Regions from separate parts of the Homo sapiens genome. Here all the other regions are linked to region 2. The links come from fine-mapping of genetic effects on gene expression. A gene starts in region 2. Each other region holds a variant in brackets. All regions are shown on one strand. Distances are between the middles of the regions.

What was found. PIP is the estimated chance that this variant, and not a neighbour inherited with it, causes the effect.
Region 1: its variant is the best candidate, but not a certain one, in a credible set for the expression of L3MBTL2 in whole blood (INTERVAL, PIP 0.65).
Region 3: its variant is the best candidate, but not a certain one, in a credible set for the expression of L3MBTL2 in whole blood (TOPMed, PIP 0.61).

The regions. Positions count from the first base shown.
Region 1 is chr22:41,345,961-41,354,138 of GRCh38, forward strand. ZC3H7B (zinc finger CCCH-type containing 7B) reads left to right here. Exons shown (of 23, transcript NM_017590.6): 14 at 43-248; 15 at 2,107-2,207; 16 at 3,160-3,341; 17 at 5,601-5,686. Among named protein-coding and RNA genes, the nearest start is that of TEF, 32 kb to the right of the region's middle. The variant G/A (reference allele first, on the strand shown) is at 4,270.
Region 2 is chr22:41,201,030-41,209,207 of GRCh38, forward strand. L3MBTL2 (L3MBTL histone methyl-lysine binding protein 2) reads left to right here and starts at 4,283. Exons shown (of 17, transcript NM_031488.5): 1 at 4,283-4,357. The coding sequence starts at 4,334. L3MBTL2-AS1 (L3MBTL2 antisense RNA 1) reads right to left here. Exons shown (of 3, transcript NR_148200.1): 3 at 8,093-8,178. RefSeq lists an enhancer at 5,127-5,627.
Region 3 is chr22:41,303,887-41,312,064 of GRCh38, forward strand. All of the region lies in intron 1 of ZC3H7B (zinc finger CCCH-type containing 7B), which reads left to right. Among named protein-coding and RNA genes, the nearest start is that of ZC3H7B, 6.5 kb to the left of the region's middle. RefSeq lists enhancers at 4,471-4,972, 4,973-5,472. The variant C/T (reference allele first, on the strand shown) is at 4,079.

The sequences.
Region 1 (8,178 bases), 140 kb after region 2:
ATCCCCGCCTGGCGGAACGTGTGTCCTGTTGCCTCTTTGCAGACATGATTAACAAGCAGGACTGTAAGTACGGGGATAACTGCACCTTCGCCTACCATCAGGAGGAGATCGACGTGTGGACCGAGGAGCGGAAGGGCACCCTCAACCGCGACCTGCTCTTCGACCCGCTGGGGGGTGTTAAGCGCGGCAGCCTCACCATCGCCAAGCTCCTGAAGGAGCACCAGGGCATCTTCACCTTCCTCTGCGAGGTACTGCCCACCCACCCACTGCCACCCCATAGGCCATGGCACAGACAGGGCTGGGGATGCTCCCTGGCACGGACCACCATAGGAAGTCAGCCCTGGAACCCGTGGGCTGTGGAGGCCTGGTCTTAGAACCAGTAGGTCCTGGAGGGTCAGTAAGTCTGGGCCCTAGGATCCTATCTTGCTAGAGGCCAGATCTGATCCAGCCCCCTCATTTTGCAGAGGCAGAAACTGAGGCTGGAAAGAAAAATCATAACCCTCACACCTGCTCTTTTCTGACAGCCAGTCATAGGCAGGGCTTGGCACGTGGTTGTTTTCGTTTCTCATTCCTAGCCTGATGCAGTGGCTCACGCCTGTAATCCCAGCACTTTGGGAGGCTGAGGCGGGCAAATCAATTGAGGTCAGGAGTTTGAGACCAGCCTGGCCAACACGGTGAAACCCTGTCTCTACTAAAAATACAAAAATTAGCTGGGCGTTGTGGTGCACGCCTGTAGTCCCAGCTAGTTGGGAGGCTGAGGCAGGAGAATCACTTGAACTGGGGAGGCAAAGGTTGCAGTGAGCCGAGATCGCGCAACTGCACTAGAGACTCCATCTCAAAAAAAAATTAAAAATTAGCTGGGCTTGGTGGCATGCGCCTCCCGTCCCAGTTACTCAGGAGGCTAAGGTGGGAGGATTGATTGCTTGCGTCCAGGAGGTAGAGGCTGCAGTGAGCCAAGATCGAACCACTGCACTCCAGCCTGGGTGACAGAGTGAGACCCTATTCCAAAAAAAAAAAAAAAAAAATGTCATTTCCATCGTCACGGCAGTGCTGGCAGGCAGATATCCCCATTTTACAGATGTTGAGGCTGAGATTCAGGGTAGCGAGGAACTGCCCTCAGCCACACAGACAGTGCCGTGCAGAACTGAGCTTCAAACCCAGGCAGCCTGTCCCTGGAGTCATGCCCACCTCCCAGCACCAGCTGCTGCTGGTGGTCCCCACAGCCAAACCCCCAGGACACAGGCAGATTGAGGGCCTGTCCGGGGCTTCCCCCGCATCCCTTGTTGTGGGTATGATGTATTTGGCACTGCTTAGCCGTCCCAAGCGCCGTGTCCACGGCCCCACGTCTCAGGCCTCCTCCACATGCCTTTCCTCGGCCCTCCTGGCTTCAGTGGCCATTGCGCTTCCCTGCCTGGGTTTGCCCTCCCCACAGGGCGCTGTCCTGTGTTTCTGGGCTTGGAACCTCTCAGCTGGACTCTGATCCCAGCAGCCCCACTGAGCTGTTAATTCCCTCCCCAAAGCTGTCCCTGAAGACCCCGCTTGGCCTCCGGAGTGAACTTGGCCCCTGTCTCCCCACCCAGTCATAGCATGTTGAGGGCAGGGGCAGTGGCACGTCTGTGTCCGTAGAGCAAGGGCTCCAGGTCCGGGTTGCTGGCAGGGTTTGGTGCCGCTCAGTCCAACCCTCATCCCTGGCACCACCAGCCCTTCCCCTAGCTCTTCCAGGTCGGGACTTGTGCCAACCCCCCACAGGGAGCATTGGCCTGGGAATCATAGTTCATAGCCAGGTGACAGCCTGTAGTTCATAAAGAACTTGCCATTCCTTTTTATCTTTTTTTTGACATGAAGTAACCCCCTGCCTCAGGCATTGGGAGTGGTGGGATCAGAGGGAGGGAGGAGGGTGAGGAAGGGAGCCAAAGCCCAGGTCACCTGTGAGCTGGAAGCAGAGAGGCAAGACCACAGACCCTGGGATTCCCTTCCTCACTCCTCTGACCCAGGGCAGGGCTTGCAGGGACCCAGCTGTCCTTCCCCAGCTAGCTGTGTGGGGTCCCAGCTCACCCCCTTCCCAGGTGGCCATGCCAGGTCCCAGCCCTTCCCCTCCCTGGGCAGATCTGCTTTGACAGTAAACCCCGGATCATCAGCAAAGGCACCAAGGACTCTCCGTCTGTCTGCTCCAACCTGGCTGCCAAGCACAGCTTCTACAACAACAAGTGAGTGGGACCCTCAGCCCAGGCTGAGGCCTAGGGGCCAGTGGAGAGTCCCCTCAGGCAGCTCAGATGGCTGAGGAAAGGCTGAACTGAAAGGGTGGATGTAGGGTGCAAGGAAAGGGGCAGAATTTGGGAATCAAATCCAGCCTCCACCTGGAAAGGATGAGAATCACATTTGTCGAACATCTACTATATTCCAAGCGTCATCTTGGGTATGTTAATTATCTTAGCAATCCTGTGAGGGAGGAGTTACTGGCCCTGTTGTACAGAACAAAAAGCTGAGGCTTGGAAGTAGCTTACTTAGCTTACTCAGCTTACTCAGCAGACAGCAAGCGGGGGGCCTCGTCTCTGACTGTAGCCCAGCACCCTCCAATGTCATGACATCAGTGTCAGGCAGTGAGGGGAGGCCTGGGTCAGGTCTGGCACCACCCCTTTCTCCCTCTTGTTCCCCTTGGTTCTGCCATGGTGTGCATATGGAGCCCAGGGCCTGCAGTCAGACAGACCTGGGTCCAATTCCTGGGCCAGTCCTGTCTTACGTCCAAGCCTGGGTTTCCTCGTCTGTAAAGCTGATGATGCTCTAGGCTCCTGGGGCTGCAGTGAGGGTAATTAAGACTCCTGGCCCAGAGGACATGCTTGGTTAGTGTTCCTCAGGATGCAGGACCGGCTCTGCAGAATCAAGCTGGAAACCTGAGGGCGGTGCCCTTTGCTTGTTGGCAGCTCCATCTTTGAACCCTGGGGGAGGGACAGGAGTAAAGCAGCGCTGGGACCCAGGCCCAGGGGTGCCTGAGCATAGGAGCCCTGTTTCTGCCCTCCTGTGTCATCCATGGCCTGGATTTGGTACATAGATCAGGGGGTGCCCAGGGAGAGCCTGGCACTGGGAAGGTGGCCCTACCAGGAGAGAAGGTCAGAGGGGCTGCGGACTGCATCGTGCCCCTCCTGCCTGCCCGCCCGCCAGGTGCCTGGTGCACATCGTCCGCTCCACCTCCCTCAAGTACTCCAAGATCCGCCAGTTCCAGGAGCACTTCCAGTTCGACGTGTGCCGCCATGAGGTGCGCTACGGCTGCCTGCGGGAGGACAGCTGCCACTTCGCCCACAGCTTCATCGAGCTCAAGGTCTGGCTGCTGCAGCAGTACTCAGGTGAGGGGCAGGCGGTGCAGGTGGAGGGCAGGTGACTCAGGTGAGGGGTAGGCGGCGCAGGTGAAGGGAGCGCAGGACTGACTGGGGTGACAGGCCAGGGCCCCATGGTCGCTGGAGGGGGCTTCGGGAGAGTTCAGGAGAGGTGGCTGCGGGGTGGGCTCTCTGTGTGTCCCAGGCACCACAGAGGAGAGAAGCTCTGCTCTCAGGGCGCTTCCAGGCTCGGAGATCTGGGTTTTTCCCTTCGTAGGCACCGTCCAGGGAGCACGGAGAGGGGAGAGGAGCACCTGGGCTCCTGCAGCAGGACCTCTGCTTGCTCCCTGGGTGGTCGGCAGCAAGTCCCCGCTCCTCACTGAGCCTCCAGTGCTCATCTGGGAAATGGGGAGCCCCATCTCTTCCTCACAGAGCTGCTGCGGGGATTGGAAGGTGTTCTCCACTCACCCACCAGGGATTTACTGAGCACCTTCTCTTGTCAGGGCATTCAGCCATGGTCTAGTCGAGGCCCTTACTTTCAGAGAACCTACATTTATAAGTGGGGGCCAGACAGATAATATATCAACAGGTGAATAAATCCTGTATTCCATCCATTCTAGGATGCACATTTACCCCTACTGCCTGTCATCATTTAATTAGCAGCATTTTGTGGGGCGGGGATTTAAAATATGGTACATATAACATTCAGTGTCTGCTTAGAGTTGGTGAAATGCAGTGGTAGCATTTCAGGCGTGCCTCAGTGTTATGAGGAAGATAAAGCCGAGCAATGGGACAGAGACAGACTCGGGGATGGGAGCATTTTAGGTAAGATGGCTGGGAAGGCCTCTCTGAGGAAGTGACTTTTGACCAGGGAAGGGCGGGGAGTGCATTCCAGAAGAGGGACCAGACTGAAGTCTCTGAGGCAGGAGCAAGCTCTGCACAGAAAGGATGGTCCCTG[G/A]GGGTAGAGCAGCTTAGTCAGTAGAAGGGGAATGAGGCCTGAGAGGTTGGAGGGGACTGAGCATGTAAGAGTCTCTAGGCCTTAAACAGGAACAACTGGGGTTGTTCTAAATATGATTTACAGTGTCTGGAGGAGGGTTTTAAGTGGGTGGAGTTATATGATCTGATCAGTACTTTGCAAAAGTCACTCTGGCTGCTGGGTGGAGATCGAGGAGCAAGGGCAGAAGCCGGGAGATCAGGGAGGGTGGCTCGGGCCAGGGTGGTGATGCTGGAGGTGGGAGAAGTGGTTAGATTCTAGGTGTATTTTGAGGGTGGAGCCAACAAGATGTGTTGATGGATCAGATATGAAGTATGAGACAAAGGAGAGCGTCAAGGTGGACTCTAAGATCAGAGCAACAGGAAGAATGGGGCTACCATGTTCTAAGAGGGGGCAGGCTGTAAGAGGAGCAGCTCAGGCTCAGTGTGGGACGTGGGAAGTCTGAGCTGCCTGGTGGACTTCACATGGAGATGTTGGAAGCAGCAGATGTGGGGATCTGGAGGTTCACAGGAAAGGTCTGGCCTGTAGATACATACTTGCAGATCATCAGCAAGAAACTGGATGTCAAGTGCAGTGTCTTGCCCCAAGTAAGCACCGATGATGATTAGCTGTCGTGGAGCAGGGGCCATAGGTCAAGGTGGAAGGCCACATCTGTTGTGGGAAAGACGTGAGAAAGATGGAGAGCGCTGAAAAGAGGGCAGGCTTCATGGAAGAGTTGTGAGCTGGATCTCCAAGGTCGGGCTCAGTGGCAACAGTCTGAGGCTGGCGGGGAGACAGACTGGAGAGTCCATGCCACCAGGCTGGGGTATTTGCCCTTTGGGGACTGGCAGTAAAGAGCCGTGGTACCACAGTGAACCGGTGAGCCAGGCTGGGCAGGCATGGAGCCCTAAGTGCCAGTGAGGCCAGGGGCTGCCAAGCAGGCACTAGGCTTGCAGCCCTGTTGAGGGAGATGGGGGTCAGGGAAGGGTGCTGAGTCACCGGCCCAAGAGACAGGGTCACTGGCATGGGAGCAGAGGACTCCCTACCACAGTACAGAGCCAATATCTTTCTACTGCATTTTCCCACTCTTGGCTGCATTTAATTCTTTCACTTCCAGTGAGGCTCGGAGCAGGTCTTTGTTCCCATTTTGCAGATGGACAAAGTGGTTCCCTTGTACCCCATGTCTTACTGTGGCTGGGCTGAGAATAGGGCTCCTCCAGCTGGGCCTCGGGGGTCCCTGGCACCTCGTGGACCCCCTGCCTCCCTCCTTGCTGAGCACCTTGAAAGATGCCTGTGTCTGCCCCCACCCTCCCCAGGCATGACCCACGAAGACATCGTTCAGGAGTCTAAGAAGTACTGGCAGCAGATGGAGGCGCATGCGGGGAAGGCCAGCAGCAGCATGGTAAGGCCTTCTGATACTATGCCATTATTCAGATTTTGTGAATTGTCCCCAAATTACAAACAGGAAGGCTCTAATTTTACAATAGAGAAATGTTTACAATGGAGGCACCTCGAATAAGTTATGAAAGTAACTTGGATAATGTACACATTCAGCTGTTGTGTCTCATTTTATTTTATTTTATTTTATTTTATTTTGAGACAGGGTCTTGCTCTGTCACCCAGCCTGGAGTGCAGTGGTATGATCATGGCCCACTGCAGCTTCCACCTCCTGGTCTCAGGTGATCCTCCTGCCTCAGCCTCCTGAGTAGCTGGGATTACAGGCATGCACCACCACACCTGGCTGATTTGTCTATTTTTTAAGACCGTGGGTCTGGGGATGTGGGGCTTGCCATCTTGCCCAGGCTTATCTGAAACTCCTGGGCTCAAGCAATCCTCCCACCTTGGCCTCCCAAAGTGCAGCGATTACAGGCATGAGCCTTGTCGTGTCTCTTTTTCATCTCCCTTGATGAAGAAACGGTTCTTTAGTCTTTGCCTTGTGTTGCATTGAGGTTTTTGAAGAGCCAGATGTTTTGTAAAAGGTCCATCCCTCTGGGCTCGTGTGAGTTTCCTCATTCCACAGAGGTGATGTCGTGTTCTCAGCTCACACATCAGGGGATGCGTCATCTCAGTGTGTCCCTTCACTGGTGACAATCTAATTAAACTTTCATAACTTGATTCAAGGTGCCTCCATTGTAAACATTTCTCTATTGTAAAATTAGAGCTTTCCTCTTTGTAATTAAGACTATACTTTCAGGGATCATTTCTATAGTTTGTAATTAATAAAGGTCTTCAGAGGCCCGGCGCAGTGGCTCACCCCTGTAATCCCACCAGCCTTTGGGAGACTGAGGCGGGCGGGTCACGAGGTCAGGAGTTCGAGACCAGCGTGTCCAACATAGTGAAACCCCATCTGTACTAAAAATACAAAAAATTAGCTGGGCGTGGTGGCGGGCGCCTGTAGTCCCAGCTACTCGGGAGGCTGAGGCAGGAGAATCGTGTGAACCCGGGAGGTGGAGGTTGCAGTGAGCTGAGATCACGCTGTTGCACTCCAGCTAGGGCGACAGTGTGAGACTCCGTCTCAAAAAATAAATAAATAAATAAAAAGTCTTCAGGAGGCCTGGCGTGGTGGCTGACGCCTGTAATCCCAGCACTTTGGGAGGCTGAGGTGAGCGGATCACCTGAGGTCAGGAGTTTGAGACCAGCCTGGCAAACATGACGAAACCCCGTCTCTACTAAAAATACAAAAAAATTAGCCGGGCATGGTGGCGGGCACCTGCAATTCCAGCTACTTGAGAAGCTGAGGCAGGAGAATTACTTGAACCCAGGAGGCAGAGGTTGCAGTGAGTTGAGATTGTGCCATTGACCTCCAGCCTGGGTGACAGAGTGAGACTCCATCTCAAAAAAAAAAAAGAAGAAAAAAAGGTCTTCAGGAGAAATACGTTGAGACCTTGTAAATATCCCAGTACTGCTCGGACTGACACCACTGATTGTGGTATCCCCTCCCATCCCTCCTGATCTTCGCCATGGTCCTGAAGAGAGCATGGGATTGTGGCATTTGCAGATGGGGAAGCTGAGGCTGAGAGATTGTTAGTGACTTGCCCAGGGGCACACTGAGTGGGGCAATTCCCAGGTTCTCTGACGTCCTGTCCGGGGCTCGCTCTTCTCCCTCCCCACCTGCGGCATTCCTGTCCATCACCCCCAGGCGGGGATCAGAACCCTGGCCCTCGTATCTCCTGGGGTGGGTGTGAGGCTCACAGGAGCCAACCTAAGCTGCCCTGTGCTCACATCGTCCCCAGGTGGTGGGATCACTGTAACTGTAGATGACAGTGGAGGACCCTCGGGCTCAGAGGGGTGGGCACAGCGCCCAGGAGACAGTAAGTGTGAGATGAGGCCTCTGTGCCATCCAGGCATGAGCACTGACCCTTTCATCCACATGAGGCCACCTGCTGATTAACTTGGGGGAAGGCTGGGCCCCTGGACCCTTCAAGAGGCTGACCAGGGTGTGGCAGGGAGCAGGGCAGGCTGCCGGGGGGTCCCTGGGCCAGGCTGGCTGGCAGGGCTGCCCACCACCTCGAGCATTCCCTTGCTCCCTGACTTCTTTGTTCCTGGTCCTCTTCTCTTTTTCTCCCCTCTTCCTGGTCCCTGCTGCCCTCCATCAGTCTCCTGTGCAGTCCTCTTTTCCCCTCCCCATCTGTTTCTTTTTCCTTCTGGCCAGGAGCCTGGCAGGGAAGGAGTGAGGGGCTTATGGGACCTTTGAAAGAGAGAACACTAGCTGGGTGTGGTAGCTCACCTGTAGCCCAGCTACTCAGGAGGCTGTGGCAGAAGGATCCCTTGAGGCCAGGAGTTTGAGATCAGCCTGGGCAACATAGTGAGACCCCTCTTGCCACCTGCTATGGCAAGGAGCTGGTGAGACTATGCAGTCATCAACGTGGGCATGGGGTCTGGCTCTAAGGGAGG
Region 2 (8,178 bases):
AGGAGTTCGAGACCAGCCTGACCAACATGGTGAAACCCCGTCTCTACTAAATACAAAAATTAGCCTAGCATGGTGGCGCATGCCTGTAATCCCAGCTACTCGGGAGGCTGAGGCAGGAGAATCGCTTGAACCCAGGAAGCAGACGTTGCAGTGAGCTGAGATCACGCCATTGCACTCTAGCTTGGGCAACAAGAGCGAAACTCCGTCTCCAGAAAAAAAAAAAACAAAAGCAAAAAATGCATACATCAACAGTACAAGGAAGTAAAAACCTGAGCATCCAGTTTCAGCGTATGAGATAAGCAGAGCAGGAACACCAGTGACAGGAACCGTTGGCGTAAGTTGAAATGGCCGTTTATTAGGAATTCAGTTGAAACATCTTATTAAGCACAGGTTGCTAAGCAATAGTGGCCGCCCCAGAACAGTAACAGTGTGGCAGTTCCTTCTGCTATGGAGCTCCTGGGCAGGGGTTTCATCCTGCAGCAAAGGTACCCTTTTTGGCTGGACTAATTCATCCCTCTACATGTGGACCTAATACGCTCCTCTCTTTTAAGGCCCTCCCTCTGTGCATCACTGTCCCTCTGTCTGGGATCATTGATCTGTCTCTCTCTACTAGATCACTCCCAATAGCAACACAAACGTGCTCTTCTGTTCCAAACTATGTACATAAATCCCTTAAACTCACCTCTTCTGCTCTATGCCCTGCCATTGTGCTATTCCACCCAGACAACTTTTTTGTTGTTGTTGGTTTTTGTTTGTTTGTTTGTTTTTTGAGAGAAAATCTTGCTCTGTCGCCCAGGCTGGAGTACAGTGGCATAATCTCGGCTCACTGCATCCTCCACCGCCCTGATTCAAGCAATTCTCCGGTCTCAGCCTCCCGAGTAGCTGAGACTACAGGCGCATGTCACCACACCCGGCTAATTTTTGTAGTTTTAGCACAGATGGGGTTTCACCATATTGGTCAGGCTGGTCTCGAACTCCTGACCTCAGGTGATCCACCTGCCTCAGCCTTCCAAAGTCCTTGGATTACAGGCATGAGCCACTGTGCCCGGCCAATATTTTTCTATTTTTAGTAGAGATGGGGTTTCACCATGTTAGCTAGGCTGGTCTCAAACTCCTGACCTCAAGTGATCCACCCACCTCAGCCTCCCAAGTAGCTGGGACTATACGCTTGTGCCACCACACCAGGCTAATATTTTGTAATTTTTTTTAATTGACACAGGGTTTTCACCATGTTGGCCAGGGTGGTCTAGAATTCCTTTTTTGTTTTTTTTCCAAGCTGGAGTGCAATGGCGCGATCTCAGCTCACTGCAACTTCCGCCTCCTAGGTTCAAGCGATTCTCCTGCCTCAGCCTCCGGAGTTGCTGGGATTACAGGCATGCCTCACCAAGCCCGGCTAATTTTTGTATTTTTAGTAAAGATGGGGTTTCACCATGTCGGCCAGGCTGGTCTTGAACTCCTGACCTCAGGTGATCCGCCCACCTTGGCCTCCCAAAGTCCTGGGATTACAGGCGTGAGCCACCGCGTCTGGCAGAACTCCTGATATCAAGTTATCCACCTGCCTCAGCGTCCCAAAGTGCTGGGATTACAGGTGTGAGCCACCATGCCCAGCCAGACAACTTTTTTTTTTCTCTGTCACCAGGGTAGAGTGCAGTGGCATGAACATGGTTCACTGTAGCCTCAACCTCCTGGGCTCAAGCAATCCTCCCTCCTCAGCCTCCAGAGTATCTGGGACCACAGGTACATGCCACTACACTTAGCTAATTTTAAAAAATTTTTAGCTGGGCACAGTGGCTCAGGCCTGTGATCCCAGCACTTTGGGAGGCCAAGGCAGGCGGATCACGAGGTCAGGCGATCAAGACCATTTGCCCAGGTGGGCGAATCACCTGAGGTCGGGAGTTCGAGACCAGCCTGACCAACATGGAGAAACCCCATCTCTACTAAAAATACAAAAAAAAAAAAAAAAAATTAGCCAGGTGTGGTGGTGCATGCCTGTAATCCTAGCTACTTGGGAGGCTGAGGCAGGAGAATTGCCTGAACCTGGGAGGCAGAGGTTGTGATGAGCCGAGATCGCGCCATTGCACTCAAGCCTGGGCAACAAGAGTGAAACTCTGTCTCAAAAACAAACAAACAAAAAAACTCTAATGCCGTTCCCTTGCACAGAATAAAATCCAAGCACTCCACAAGACCCTGAATGACCTGGTCTCAGCTTTCTCTCAAACCTCATCTTGTATCACCCTCTCCATGTTTTGCTATATCCATCTACTCTCTCTGTCTTTCTGTTTATTGCATACCAAGCTTGAGTTGGCCCCAGGACCTTTGCACTTGCTGTTCCACCAATGTGGCCTTTGCACTTGCTGAACCAACCTGTCTTTTTCTTTTTTTTTCACCACTATCTTATTCCAGAACATTTATTTTTATTTTTATTTTTTGAGATGGAGTCTTGCTCTGTTGCCCAGGCTGGAGTGTAGTGGTGCAATCTCGGCTCACTGCAACCTCTGACTCCCTTGTTCAAGCGATTCTCCTGCCTTAGCCTCCCAAGTAGCTGGGATTACAGGCACCCGTCATCACACCCAGCTAATAGTTGTATTTTTAGTAGAGATAGGGTTTCATCATCTTGGCCAGGCTGGTCTCGATCTCCTGACCTTGTGATCTGTCCATCTTGGCCTCCCAAAGTGCTGGGATTACAGGCGTGATCCACTGCACCCGGCCAGGTCAATGAGTTTTAAAGATCACCTGTGTGTATTAAAGGTGAAGATTTAAAAAGGGTGACCACAGGAGGTGGAGGTTGCAGTGAGTGGAGATCCCACTGCATTCCAGCCTGGGCGACAGGGGAGACTCCATCTCAATCAATCAATCAATCAATAAAAGAAAGAAAGAAAGGGTGACCAGTTGAAGGGCTGCTGCAATGGGCCGGTGGCTTGTATTAGAGTGGTAGTGGTGGAGGAAATACAGGATATATTTTGGAGGTAGAAAAACCAACACGTTGACAGCATGGATACAGGGGTTTAGGGTGGAAGGGGTTGAAGGAAAGAAAGACCTCTAGGAAGAGTTTGACATCTCCACGGCGGACTTCAAATTTAGGCATATATTTTATATGTATTCAGCCTCCACATATTGCATTTAGAGTCTCAATTAATTCACTGGGACACGGCATGGCATAGGGAAGGAATCTGTACTAAATTTGGAATCCCAATCCTGTGTGATCTTGGAAAGTGCCTAAACCTGAAGTGGTGAAGAGCCACCACTTCCTCTTCTTTCAAACGGTGATAGGATGTCTAAGGGTTTGAAAAGATGTTTGCAAAGCTCCACAACAGCACCTAGAACTCAGGGTGTCTAAGGAGGTTGTGGGAAACCCTAACGGGATGAGGCAGAGAGCCTCAGATTCGAGGTTTTTACCCAGGAGAGAGTGGTGAAGGAGGAATGTTGTAAGATTTTGAGCAGGCTGGACATTTACAGTATTGAGAAAAAGAATATTCCAGTTTCAGCCGGGCGCGGTGGTTCACGCCTGTAATCCCAGCACTTTGGGAGGCCGAGGCGGGTGGATCCCGAGGTCAGGAGTTCAAGACCAGCCTGGTGAAACCCCGTCTCTACTAAAAAATACAAAAATTAGCCGGGCTTGGTGGTGGGCGCCTGTAGTCCCAGTTACTTGGGAGGCTGAGGCAGGAGAATCGCTTGAACCTGGCAGGCGTAGGTTGCAGTGAACCGAGATCGCGCCACGGCACTCCAGCCTGGGCGACAGGGCAAGACTTCGTCTCAAGAAAACACACACACACACACACACACACACACACACACACACACACACACACACAGAGTATTCCAGTTTCTTCCTTTTTTTTTTCTTTTTAATCTGGAGTAGTCCAGTTTCTGCCTGAGTTGGAAATGAGTCCCTCTGCTATGCATCCCAGCAAAAGGGCACCTTAAATATCTAACCCGGGAGAGTACGAGGTTATTCCTGGAGTCTGGAACAGTGACTATCATAGGTGCTCAATAACCGTTTAGGGAAGAATAACATCCAGTGAAGTCAAGAGGTTGGCGTAATTGGAACACTCGGCGTGAGGCGCACCAGGTTTCCAGCGCCCCTGGTTTCCACGTCGCTATGGTAACGACTCACCCTGCACACATGCGAACTACAATTCCCATAACCGCCCGCGGCTTCCCCGCCCACAGGGAGAGAATGGCGGGAGCAGGCACGGAACCGGCTTTTCCTCCTTCCTGCAGCGTGATTGGCCCGCGGCTCAGGGAGGCGACCAATGAGTGCTCTCGCGGAGAGCGACGGGGCAGGCCAATATGGCTTCCTGCACCTGGTGACGCTTGGCGAAACTGAGGTCTCATGGAGAAGCCCCGGAGTATTGAGGTGAGAAGGCGAGGACTTAGCGTGACTGGGAAAGGGAACTCCGAGAGCCTCGCTCCGTGGGCCCTTCTTTAGGGCTTTTAGCGACGCCTGGAGGGTGGAGGGTGGGAGGATGGATAAACTGAGGTAGTTAAACTGAGCCAGGGGCAGAGGCAATTGACGTTACTTTTTGCCCCTCTCCTGCTGGGGCCAACGTTCGGCGAGGAGTTCAGGGAGGAACAGCCGTCCCTGGCCTGGGGGAAAGGGAACTAGGTTTAGGATCTGAGAGCTCCTGAATCTTCCTTATCCTGCTTGTCTCGTGGCTGTGTTGTTTAGGGCTTGTGAGGCCTGTTACATGAGGTGGGAAGTGAAGGGAGATTAAAGTTGGGTGAACATCACTCCTTGTCTGTAACGTTCACGTGCATTATCTTCCAGTACACTCACAGCAATCATGTATTATTCTTTCGTCTTTGTCGTTCAAGCCACTGAGGCTTAGAGGTGGTGCGACACCCCAGGAAGTTACCCCGGCTGGAAAGTGAAGGAGATTGGCACTAAGTCTGTCCGCCTCTGAAACTTTGCCTGTTATGCTTTTCACACTGTACTGCAACCTGGAACCCACTCATCCTTTTTTTTTTTTCTTTCAGACGGAGTCTTGCTCTGTCACCTAGGCTGGAGTGCAGTGGCGCGATCTCGGCTCACTGCAACCTCCGTCTCCCGGGTTCAAGCAATTCTGTCTCCATCTCCCATGTTCCTGGGATTACAGGCATGTGTCACCACACCCGGCTAATTTTTGTATTTTTAGTAGAGACGAGGTTTTGCCATGTTGGTCGGATTGGTCTCGAACTCCTGACCTCAGGTGATCTGTCTGCTTCACCTCGGCCTCCCAAAGTGCTGGGATTACAGGCATGAGCCACTGCACCCCGCCTCATCCTTTAATCATTTGGTTTCTGGGCACCTTATATTTAAGAGACGGGGTGTTCCTATGTTGCCCTGGCTGGAATGCAGTGGTTACTCACAGGCGTGATGACAACGCACTGCAGCCTCTAACTCTTGGGCTCAAGCAATCCTTACACCTCAGCCTCCTAAGTAGCTGGGACTATAGGTGGTCTCTGTCACCCTGCCTGACAAGGGTACCTATATTTGAATTGTTTCCTTGCTGGGTGCGGTGGCTCACGCCTGTAATCCCAGCACTTTGGGAGGCCGAGGCGGGCAGATCACGAGGTCAGGAGATCGAGACCATCCTGGCTAACATGGTGAAACCCCATCTCTACTAAAAATACAAAAAAATTAGCCGGGCGTGGTGGCAGGCACCTGTAGTCCCAGCTACTCGGGAGGCTGAGGCGGGAGAATGGCGTGAACGTGGGAGGCGGAGCTTGCAGTGAGCCGAGATCGGGCCACTGCACCACTGCACTCCAGCCTGGACGACAGAGCGAGACTGTGTCTCAAAAAAAAAAAAAAATTGCTTCCTTTCTAGCATATTTGCATGTGTAGTTGCAAATATAAGGTGGAATAGCTCAAACTTTCTGCAAGGGTAAACGAGAATAATCATGTGGAGAATAAGAATAGCAAGTCACACTTTTAGAGCTGTTACTGACTGCTGGAAATAGAACTAGGTTTTACATATCTTATCTCAATCTTCGTAAGAATTCTCTAAAGAAAGCTTATTACCTCTCTTGTAATGATGACAGCAGCAAGATAAAATACGCACAAAATCACACAGTTAATAAATGTTAGAGCCAGGATTCAAACTCAGGCAAATCAGAGCCTATGCTTTCAACCAGTAAAAATTGGCAACCTTTATTGAGCACTTACTATATGCAAGTCACTATTCTGAGAGCTTTGCCTGTATCGTCTCTTACTTCTCCCCCAAATCCTTTTTTTTTTTTTTTTTTTTTTTTTGAAACAGGGTTGCTCTCTGTCACCCAGGCTGGAGTGCAGTGGTGCAGTCATAGCTAACTGCAGCCTTGACCTCCCTGGCTCAAGAGTTCCTCCCACCTCAGCCTCCCTAACCAAAACACCCAGCTAATTTTTTCCATTTTTTATAGAGACAGGGTTTCCCTATGTTGCCCAGTCTGGTCTTGAACTCCTAGGCTCAAGCAATCCTCCTGTCTCGGCCTCCCAAAGTGCTGGGATTACAGGCATGAGCCACCATGGCCAGCCCCCAAACCCTATGAAATAGGTGGTACTATCCTCATTGTACAGATGTGGAAACTGAAGCACTGCAAAATTGACTTGCTGCAGGTCATACAGCGAGTAAGCACTAGAGATATTTGAGCTCTGGACCAGAGGCCAAACTTTTCTCCTTTCTTCACACCTTTTTTTTCCTTTGAGACAGTGTCTTCCCTCTGTCATCCAGGCTGGAGTGCAATGGTGTGATCATGATTCAGTGCAGCCTTGACCTCCCAGGCTCAAGCTGTCTTCCCACCTCAGCCTTCTGAGTAGCTAGAGCCACAGGTGCATGCCACCACCACCCAGCTTTTTTTTTTTGAGAAGGAGTCTCACTCTGTTGCCCAGGCTGGAGGGCAGTGGTGCAATCTCGGCTCACTGCAACCTCCAACTCCTGGGTTCAAGTGATTCTCCTGCCTCAGCCTCCCGAGTAGCTGGGATTTCAGGCACCCACCATCATGCCCAGCTATTTTTTGTATTTTTACTAGAGATGGGATTTCACCATGTTGGCCAGGATGGTCTTGAACTCCTGGTCTTAAGTGATCCGCCCGCCTCGGTCACCCAAAGTGCTGGGATTATAGGTGTGAGCCACCGCACCCAGCTTTTTTTTCTTTTTCTTTGGAGACAGGATGTCATTCTCTTGCCCAGGCTGGATTGCAGTGGCATGGTTATGGCTCACTACAGCCTTGACCTCCCAGGCTCAAGCAGTCCTTCCACCTCAGCTCCAAGAAGCTGGGACTACAGGCGCATGCCACCACACCTGGCTAATTTTTTTTTCTTTTGTAGAGATGGGGTGTGGCTGTGTTGCCAAGGCTGGTCTCAAACTCCTGGGTTCAAGCAATCCACCTGCCTCAGCCTCCCAAAGTGCTGGGATTACAGATGTGAACCACCGTACCCAGGCTCTTCACACGTTTTCTGTTACATGCTGGGTAGATTCATATACATTATCTCATTTGCATCTCACGAGTCAAATATTTTTATTTTATAGATGAGAAAGTTGAAGCCCACAGAAGTTAAATGACTTGCCCAAGGCCCTATAGCTAGTTAGGCTCAGAGCTGAATCTAGCGCTGTAGTACACACCAAGATGCCACAGTTATCTGTGTGTCATCTGCCTCTCCCATCCTCTTTGGAGCAGTCTAGGTCCCAAATTAACTTTTCTGTGACTTAAATTGTTTCTGAGTTGAGATCATTTTGATGTATATTGAACGGGGAAGAATTTTTGTTTTTCTTTTTGAGACAGCATCTCACTCCATTACCAGGCTGGAGTGCAGTGGCGCGATCTTAGCTCGCTGCAACCTCCACCTCCCGGGTTCAAGCAATTCTCTGCCTCAGCTTCCCAAGTACCTGGGATTACAGGCACCCGCCACCACACCCAGCCAATTTTTGTATTTTTAGTAGAGACGGGGTTTCACCATCTTGGCCAGGTTGGTCTTGAACTCCTGACTTCGTGATCCACCCACCTTGGCCTCGGAAAGTGCTGGGATTACAGGTGTGGGCCACTGTGCCTGGCTAAGAATTAATTTCTAATATATCTTCTACCCCAGAAAGTCTTTGTGAAGTACCTTAGGATATTTCACTTTTTTTTTTTTTTTGAGATGGAGTCTTGCTCTGTCACGCAGACTGGAGTGCAGTGGCACGATCTTGGCCCACTACAACCTTTGCCTCCTGGGTTCAAGCA
Region 3 (8,178 bases), 100 kb after region 2:
AGCTGGGACTACAGGCTCCCGCCACTACGCCCAGCTAATTTTTTGTATTTTTAGTAGAGACGGGGTTTCACCGTGTTAGCCAGGATGGTCTTGATCTCCTGACCTCGTGATCCAGCCACTTCGGCCTCCCAAAGTGCTGGGATTACAGGCGTGAGCCACCATGCCCAGCCTTCTTTTTATTTTTTGAGACAAGGTCTCACTCTGTCACCCAGGCTGGAGTACAGTAGCACAATTGTAGCTCAGTCTGCCAGGCTCAGGCAATCCTCCTGCCTTGGCCTCCCAAAGGGATAGGGTTACAGGCATGAGCCACCACACCTGGCTGCTGCAAGTTTCTTTCTTTCTTTCTTTCTTTTTTTTTGACAGAGTCTCACTCTGTTACCCAGGCTGGAGTGCAGTGGCATGATCTTAGGTCACTGCAACCTCTGCCTCCCGGGTTCAAGTGATTCCTGGGCTCAACATATCTGAATTCAAGTGAACTCCTGGGCTCAACATATCTACCCACCTCGGCCTCCCAAAGTGCTGGGATTACAGGCGTGAGCCACCTCATGCCTGTCTGCAAGTTACTTTTCAAGTGCCTCTTGTGAGATGCTGTGGGGCAGGTTTGCAATTGACTTTGTCATTTATTATCTGGCTGGAAAGAGAAAGTTGATTCTAGTGAACCAATGAGAACACAAGAATTCTGGGGTCAGTGCAGTGGGAGTGGAGAGAAGACAGCTCAAGGCTACCTGGAAAAGTTAGAGAAGGCTTCTTCTAGGAAGTAGAATTTGAACTTCAAAGAATGGGGAGGCTTGCCAGGGTGGAGAAGAAGGGAATTTCTGGGTTAGCCACAATTGCTTCTGTGCTGGGAAGTTGACTTACATTCTCTCGAATTGTTATAGTAGCTCCGTGAGGGGTGGGCATTATAATCTCCATTTCACAGATGAAGAAATTGAGGAACACGGGATTTGTGTGCCCAGCCCAAGGTCAATCTGCAGGATTTGAATCCAGGCCTTCTTGACTCTTGAGTGTGCTCCTGCCCTCTGCACCACCTTCCTCTCAGATACGTAAGCAAGAACAGGGACTGTCCTATAATCCCAGCACTTTGGGAAGCCAAGGCGAGCTGATCACTTGAGGTCACGAGTTCGAGACCAGACCTGGCAACATGGTGAAACCCAGTCTCCACTAAAAACACAAAAATTGGCCGGCTGCGGTGGCTCACGCCTGTAATCCCAGCACTTTGGGACGCCGGGGCGGGTGGATCACGAGGTCAAGAGATTGAGACCATCCTGGCCAACATGGTGAAACCCCACCTCTACTAAAAGTACAAAACTTAGCTGGATGTGGCGGTGCATACCTGTAATCGCAGCTACTTGGGAGGCTGAGGCAGGAGAATTGCTTGAACCCAGGAGGCGGAGCTTGCAGTGAGCCGAGCGCTCCACTGCACTCCAGCCTGGGCGACAGAGCAAGACTCTGTCTCAAAAAAAAAAAAAAAAAATTAGCTGGGCATGCTGGTGGGTGCCTGTAATCCTAGCTACTCAGGAGGCTGAGGCAGGAGAATCTCTTGAACCTGGGGGGTGGAGGTTGCAATGAGCCAAGATCACGCCACTGCACTCCAGCCTGGGCAACAGAGTGAAACTCTGTCTCAAAAAAACAAAAATGGAGACTGGATGGTCTGAATTAGCAAATGAAACTGGGGTAGCATTGTCAACAGGCTCCCCAAGACCAAGGAGTTCTCCTAAACTGGCTCTGTATCCCAGGGCCCCGAGGGGCTGGACCAGTGAAAGCACTCTCAGTAGGTTTCTAACTGCAGAAAGCAGAATGGCAGTAGAAGGAGGACCGGTCCCTGAGCGTGGGGATCTGAGCAAGTTTGGTTCCTTAGTGCCTGCTGGGTGCCGGCCCAGCACCCTGGAGGAGCTTAGAGCTTGGGATGAGATAGATATGGACCATTAATCTGAGCTTCCCAAGGACAGGAACTGGGTCTGATTCACCCTCTGTGCCTCCAGCCCCAGAGGCGGTGCCAGGATGACACACTCAGCCATTGTGTTGTCAAATTGAATTATGCCCCAATGTAGAGGAGGAAGGTTTATTTTGCCCAAGAGTAGAAGATCTTCCTAGAAGTGCCATTTGAACATCTGAAAGATAGGTTGAAAAGCCAGAGAAAGGGTGTTCTAAGCAGAGGCATTGAGATGGACAAAGGCAGGGATGTATAAAGAAGAACAGGTCACCTGGTACAGCCACAGTCTAGTGGGCAGATACATGACATTGGGTTCAAGTCAGGCTCTGCCGTCATGATCCTTTCGATTCTCTGGGCCTCAGTTTCCCCTTCTGAAAAGGAGCCCTGAGATTTGATGATATTTAATGATAACCCATGCTTGGGGATCAGGATAAGAAACTCAGATGAAAGGAGCTAGAAGTGTTTAAAAATTTTTATTAATTTAGTAATCACTGAACCAGCAATTCTCTAGGCCCTGTTGCAAGTGCTTTTTCCTAAATTAGCTTATTTAATTCTTTTTTTTTTTTTTTTTGAGACGGAGTTCCACTCTTGTCGCCCAGGCTGGAGTGGGATGGCACGATCTTGGCTCACTGCAACCTCCGCCTCCCGGGTTCAAGTGATCCTCCTGCCTCAGCCTCTCAAGTAGCTGGGATTACAGGTGTCCGCCACCACACCTAATTTTTGTATTTTTAGTAGAGACGGGGTTTTGCCATGTTGGCCAGGCTGGTCTTGAACTCCTGATCTCAAGTGGTCCACCCGCCTGGGCCTCTCAAAGTGCTGGGATTACAGGCGTGAGCCACTGCACCCAGCCTTTATTTAATTCTTTCAACAGCCCTAGAGGGAGGCACTGTAATTATCCCCATTTTACAGGTGAAGAAACTGTGGCATAGAGAGGTTCAGTGAAGTGCAGAAGGGGCAGAGCTGCAGAGCCAACCCAGGATGTCTGGCTCTGGAGCTGGCCTGGTGTGGGCCTGGGAAGGAGCCTCAGGGGAGACCTGAGGTTATTCAGACAGCAGCGGGTGGAGGTGCTGTAGCCCCAGGCTGGAGGCTCAGCCTGGGCTGATGATGGGCTGTGCGTCAGCCCCCAGGAGCCTCCACAGAGGTCAGCTCCTTTCTTTTTTTTTTTTTTTTTTGAGACAGAGTCTCATTCTGTCACCCAGGCTGGAGTGCAGTGGTGCGATCTTGGCTCACTGCAACCTCTGCCTCCCGGGTTCAAGCAATTCTCCTGCCTCAGCCTCCTGAGTAGCTGGGATTACAGGCACGCACCACCACACCTGGCTAATTTTTTTTTGTATTTTTAGTAGAGATGGTGTTTCACCATGTTGGTCAGACTGGTCTTGAACTCCTGACCTCGTGATCCACCCGCCTTGGCCTCCCTACTGCTGGGATTATAGGCATGAGCCCGTGCTGGGCCTGAAGTCGGCTCCTTTCATCACATTTCATGGCCCCTGGAAAACAAGCTCATTTTCCTTCCTCTGTCAGCACCAGCTACAGATTCCTTCTCACCAAATTCATTCCCCCCAGGGAGACTGTTTCTTTGCAGGCATGTTGGTTGTGTTGGTGCCGTGTTGGTTGTGTTGGTGCTGTCTCCCCACCGGGCTATGGAGGCCCAGAGGGAGGGACATTCCTGCATTCAGAGCGCTTGTTCCCTTCAGAAACATCTGGTAACTTCAGTTCTGCAGCATCACAGCTCCTCAGCGTCAGAGGCTGAGACACAAGCTTGGTGGGGATCGTGGGGATACGATCACCCATATAGCAGCACATAACACCCATATAACAGCAGCCCCCATATGGTTAACACCACTGTATACCAGCATCGTGCTTGACATTTCCTATGCCTTCTCTTATTGAATCCACTTAACAGCTCTTCAAGACCAGAGCAATCATTGGCAGCCCCATCTTGTAGATGAGGAGCCTGAGGCTCAGAAAGACTAAGTTAACACTTCTGAGATCACACAGCTGAGGTAGAGAAGGGAGTCAGATGAAGCCACCTGGCATCCGAGGTCTTAGCTGCCATGCAGGAGACAGTCTTCAGGTTACTTCCAGTTTCCTCGAAGCTCTTTTCTTATCAATCTGGAAATCCTAACTACCACCAACATTTGTGTC[C/T]TGCTGTGTCCACAGTCTCTCATTAATTGTCATGACAGTCTTTTGAGGTAAGGTAAGAGGTGTCCCTGTTTTTCAGAAGAAAAAGACTGAGGCATCATCACCCACCCACTGCTCTTCCTACCCAGTCCACAATGTGACTTGGGAGGGGAACAGGGTATTGGATTCCCTGAGACCGAGAACCATGTCTTCTGATTGGTTTGTGTTACTGAAGTGCTGGAGTCAGCTGATGATCATTCCTTGAGCACTTCCTGTGAGGGCTGCAGGGAAGGTGGGGGCTCTGGCCCTCCTGGGGTTTTTAGAGGTCGCCCTGGTTCAGCTATGCTCTTGTTCCCTGGAGCATCTCTGTGTCATCCCTCTCCCTCCACAGGCTGAGGAACGCAGGGCAGGGAGCCCAAAGTCCTGAGTTTCATTCCCAACTCCTGTTCATGCTGGCTGTATGATGGAGGCATTATTATTTTGTCATTCTTGGCTTCTGTCTCCTTTTCTGTGAAACGGCCGTACTGATCCTGTCGAATCTGCATCAGGGGTTGTAGTTATGATCATTTAATAGCCTTCAGAATATTCCTGAATCTTCTTCACTGTCTGCCTTGATCCAGGCCTGAACCACTGCAGTAGCCTCCTAACCAATCTCCCAGTATCCTCTCTTGTCATACGTCCTCCCTGCAGTAGCCAAAAGGATCTTCTTGCGAAATAAATAAGCTCCTGTCACTCTTCTGCTGAAAACTCTCCTGCAGTTTCCTGACACACGCAAAACACAGCCCTGGCTCCCGGCATGGCCTGTGAGTGGTTCTGAGACCAGCCTCGCCTGCCCCTTGCACTTTGCCTCCCACGTGGCTTGCCCTTGCTTGGGTGTTGCAGCCACGGTGGCCTTCTGAGTTTTCCTGGAACATTATCAGCTTGTTCCCACCTCAGGGCCATTGCCTGTGCCCTGTCCCCTGCTAGGTAGGTGCCCTCTTACCCCACCTCCTATCTTCCATGGCTGGCTACCTATCTCTCTTAAATGTCAGCTTCCTCCTAAGGGCCTTCCCTAAACTCCCAGTCTGCTTTTTTTTTTTTTTTTTTTTTGAGACGGAGTTTCGCTCTGTCGCCCAGGCTGGAGTGCAGTGGCGCGATCTCGACTCACTGCAAGCTCCGCCTCCCGGGTTCATGCCATTCTCCTGCCTCAGCCTCCCGTGTAGCTGGGACTACAGGCGTGCGCCACCATGCCCGGCTAATTTTTGTATTTTTAGTAGAGACGGGGTTTCACCGTGTTAGCCAGGATGGTCTCGATCTCCTGACCTCGTGATCCGCCCATCTCGGCCTCCCAAAGTGCTGGGATTACAGGCGTGAGCCACCGCGCCCGGCCTGCTTTCTTTTTTTCTTTTTTTGAGACAGAGTCTCGCTCTGTCGTCCAGGCTGGAGTGCAGTGGTGTGATCTCGGCTCACTGCAATCTTGACCTCCTGGGTTCAAGTGATTCTCCTGCCTTAGCCTCCTGAGTAGCTGGGATTACAGGTGCCCACCACTAGGCCCGGCCTAATTTTTGTATTTTTATTAGAGATGGGGTTTCACCATGTTGGCCAGGCTGGTCTTGAACTCCTGGCCTCAAGTGATCTGCCCACCTCAGCCTCCCAAAGTGCTGGGATTACAGGCGTGAACCACCGCATCCGGCCCTAATGTACTTTCCATCACTCCATGCCACGCTTCCTGCTTCAGCTTCCTTGTGACTCTGATCTCTATTTTTACTTGTCGTGTGCATTTCACGCTGGTTTATTTGTCTTCCTGCCCATGGATGACAAGCTGCACCAGGGAAAGGACTTTATTAACTGTGTTCCCCTAGCACCTGGTAGGGCCCCTTGCACTAAAAGTGCTTCATGGTTATTTGTTGAATAAATGAATAATAGTAGGAGGTTGGCCACAGAATAGCCCTTGCCAAACAGCCCACGACTGGGCAGGGAAACTGCAAAGAAATCAACATTGATGGCTGAGCACGGTGGCTCATGCCTATAATCCCAGCACTTTGGGAGGCCGAGGTGAGCGGATCACAAGTTCAGGAGATCGAGACCATCCTGGCTAACACAGTGAAACCCCGTCTCTACTAAAAATACAAAAAATTAGCCAGGCGTGGTGGCGGGCACCTGTAGTCCCAGCTACTCGGGAGGCTGAGGCAGGAGAATGGTGTGAACCCGGGAGGCGGAGCTTACAGTGAGCAGAGATGGCGCCACTGCAGTCCAGCCTGGGCGACAGAGCGAGACTCCGTAAATCAACATTGAGTGATTGAAAACTTACAGGATAATTATGTCTGTTGTGAGTGCTCTCTACAGCACCCAGTTTAGCAGAAACATGAATTTCTGACCCCTTCAGGGGGAGGCACACCAGGTGGAGCTGCAAAATTGTCTTGTCAGGTGTGTATCATCATCCCTGTCTCCCAGATGACAAAACTGAGGCTCAGGGAGGTGCCCTGAAAGCCAGTGTGGGACAGTGCTGGGATCTGAACCCAGGGCTGGTGGATTGCATGGCCTAGCCTGCCTCCCTGTCAGCACAAGGCACGAAAGCAAGCAGAGCAGCACTGGAAACTCTCTTGATGCCCAATGATGCACCACAAGGATTTCCAAGCTCCCTGGGAGCAGGAGCAGTGACTACTTAACTGCTCAAGAGGAACAGGGTATGCCACAGTGTTAGACAGTCACTCTAAGCTCTGGGTGATTCTGGCTTATTTTTTAATTTTATAATTTCCAAATTTTATTTTTTAATTTTATAATTTCCAAATTTATAATTTCCAAAGCTTTTACAATGACCTTCTGTTACTGTTTTAAAAAGGGAGTTTTTTGTTTGTTTGTTTTAATGGAGTCTTGCTCTGTCACCCAGGCTGGAGTGCAGTGGCACTATCTCGGCTCACTGCAGCCTCCGCCTCCTGGGTTCACGCCATTCTCCTGCCTCAGCCTCCCGAGTAGCTGGGACTACAGGTGCCCGCCACCACCCCCGGCTAATTTTTTTGTGTTTTTAGTAGAGAGGGGGTTTCACCGTGTTAGCCAGGATGGTCTCGATCTCCTGACCTCGTGATCTGCCCGCCTCGGCCTCCCAAAGTGCTGGGATTACAGGTGTGAGCCACCGCGCCCAGCCTCACTTTTTTTTTTTTTTTTTTTTAGCCTGCATTCATTCGCGTGTATATGTGCATGTGTGCACATCGGTTTTGAGTGGGGGAGTGACATTGGCATATGCGTTACACAGATATCCCTGACCACTGAATGGGAGCATATTGGAGGGGGTGCATTGGAAACTTGGCAAGAGATGTTGAGGGTCCGAGAGGTGGCCGTGCTTGTGGAGAGGATATGAGGGGTTGCAGGGTGGGGAAATATTTATGAGGTAAAGGTGGCTGAGAACAGGATGATGCTCAGAGCTATGAATAGAGTCAGGGAATAATGGAAGAGGAGTAGGATTAGGGGAGAAGATGCTGAGTTCAGTTTGGAATGTGTTCAGTTGGAGAAACACCCAATCCAGCTGAGATGGCACCAAAGAGGACTTTGGACACAGAGGCATCTAAGCTGGGTCTTAAAGGATGAGTAGGAGTTGGGAAGGTGTGTGTGGCAGAGGGCATTCCAGGTAGAGGGCCCAAGATTAAGAAAGGGATGGAAGTCATAGGCAGCCTGGGTGTTGGACTTCCAGGTACCACTACCCAGAAGATAAGAGATATGAGTCTGAAATACTGGGGAAGGGGGTGGGCCTGGCAGGAGGAAGAGATAGGCGAGTCGTTAACATGACTCATGTTATCATGAAATGCAAGAGCTCATCTGGGGAGCAGGTAGTGAAGAGAGCAGGAGCACTGTCCCTTAAATGGAAGCTCGGGGATGTTGGTCTTGAGACCTGGGCAGAATAAGACGAGCCCCCAACAGAGAAATCTGCTTCGTTTTTTGTTCCTCAACCATGCATGGAGGCATCTCCATGACAATACATATAGATTCAATAGCTGCATTGTATTCCATGGTATGGAATTTAATTAACTAATTTAATTCATTTTAATTAAATTAGTTAATTAAATTAATCCTTTACTGGTAGACATTAAGGTTGCTTCTAGTTTTCCACTTACTCTTAAAAATAATACATCCTCGGGAGGCTGAGGCAG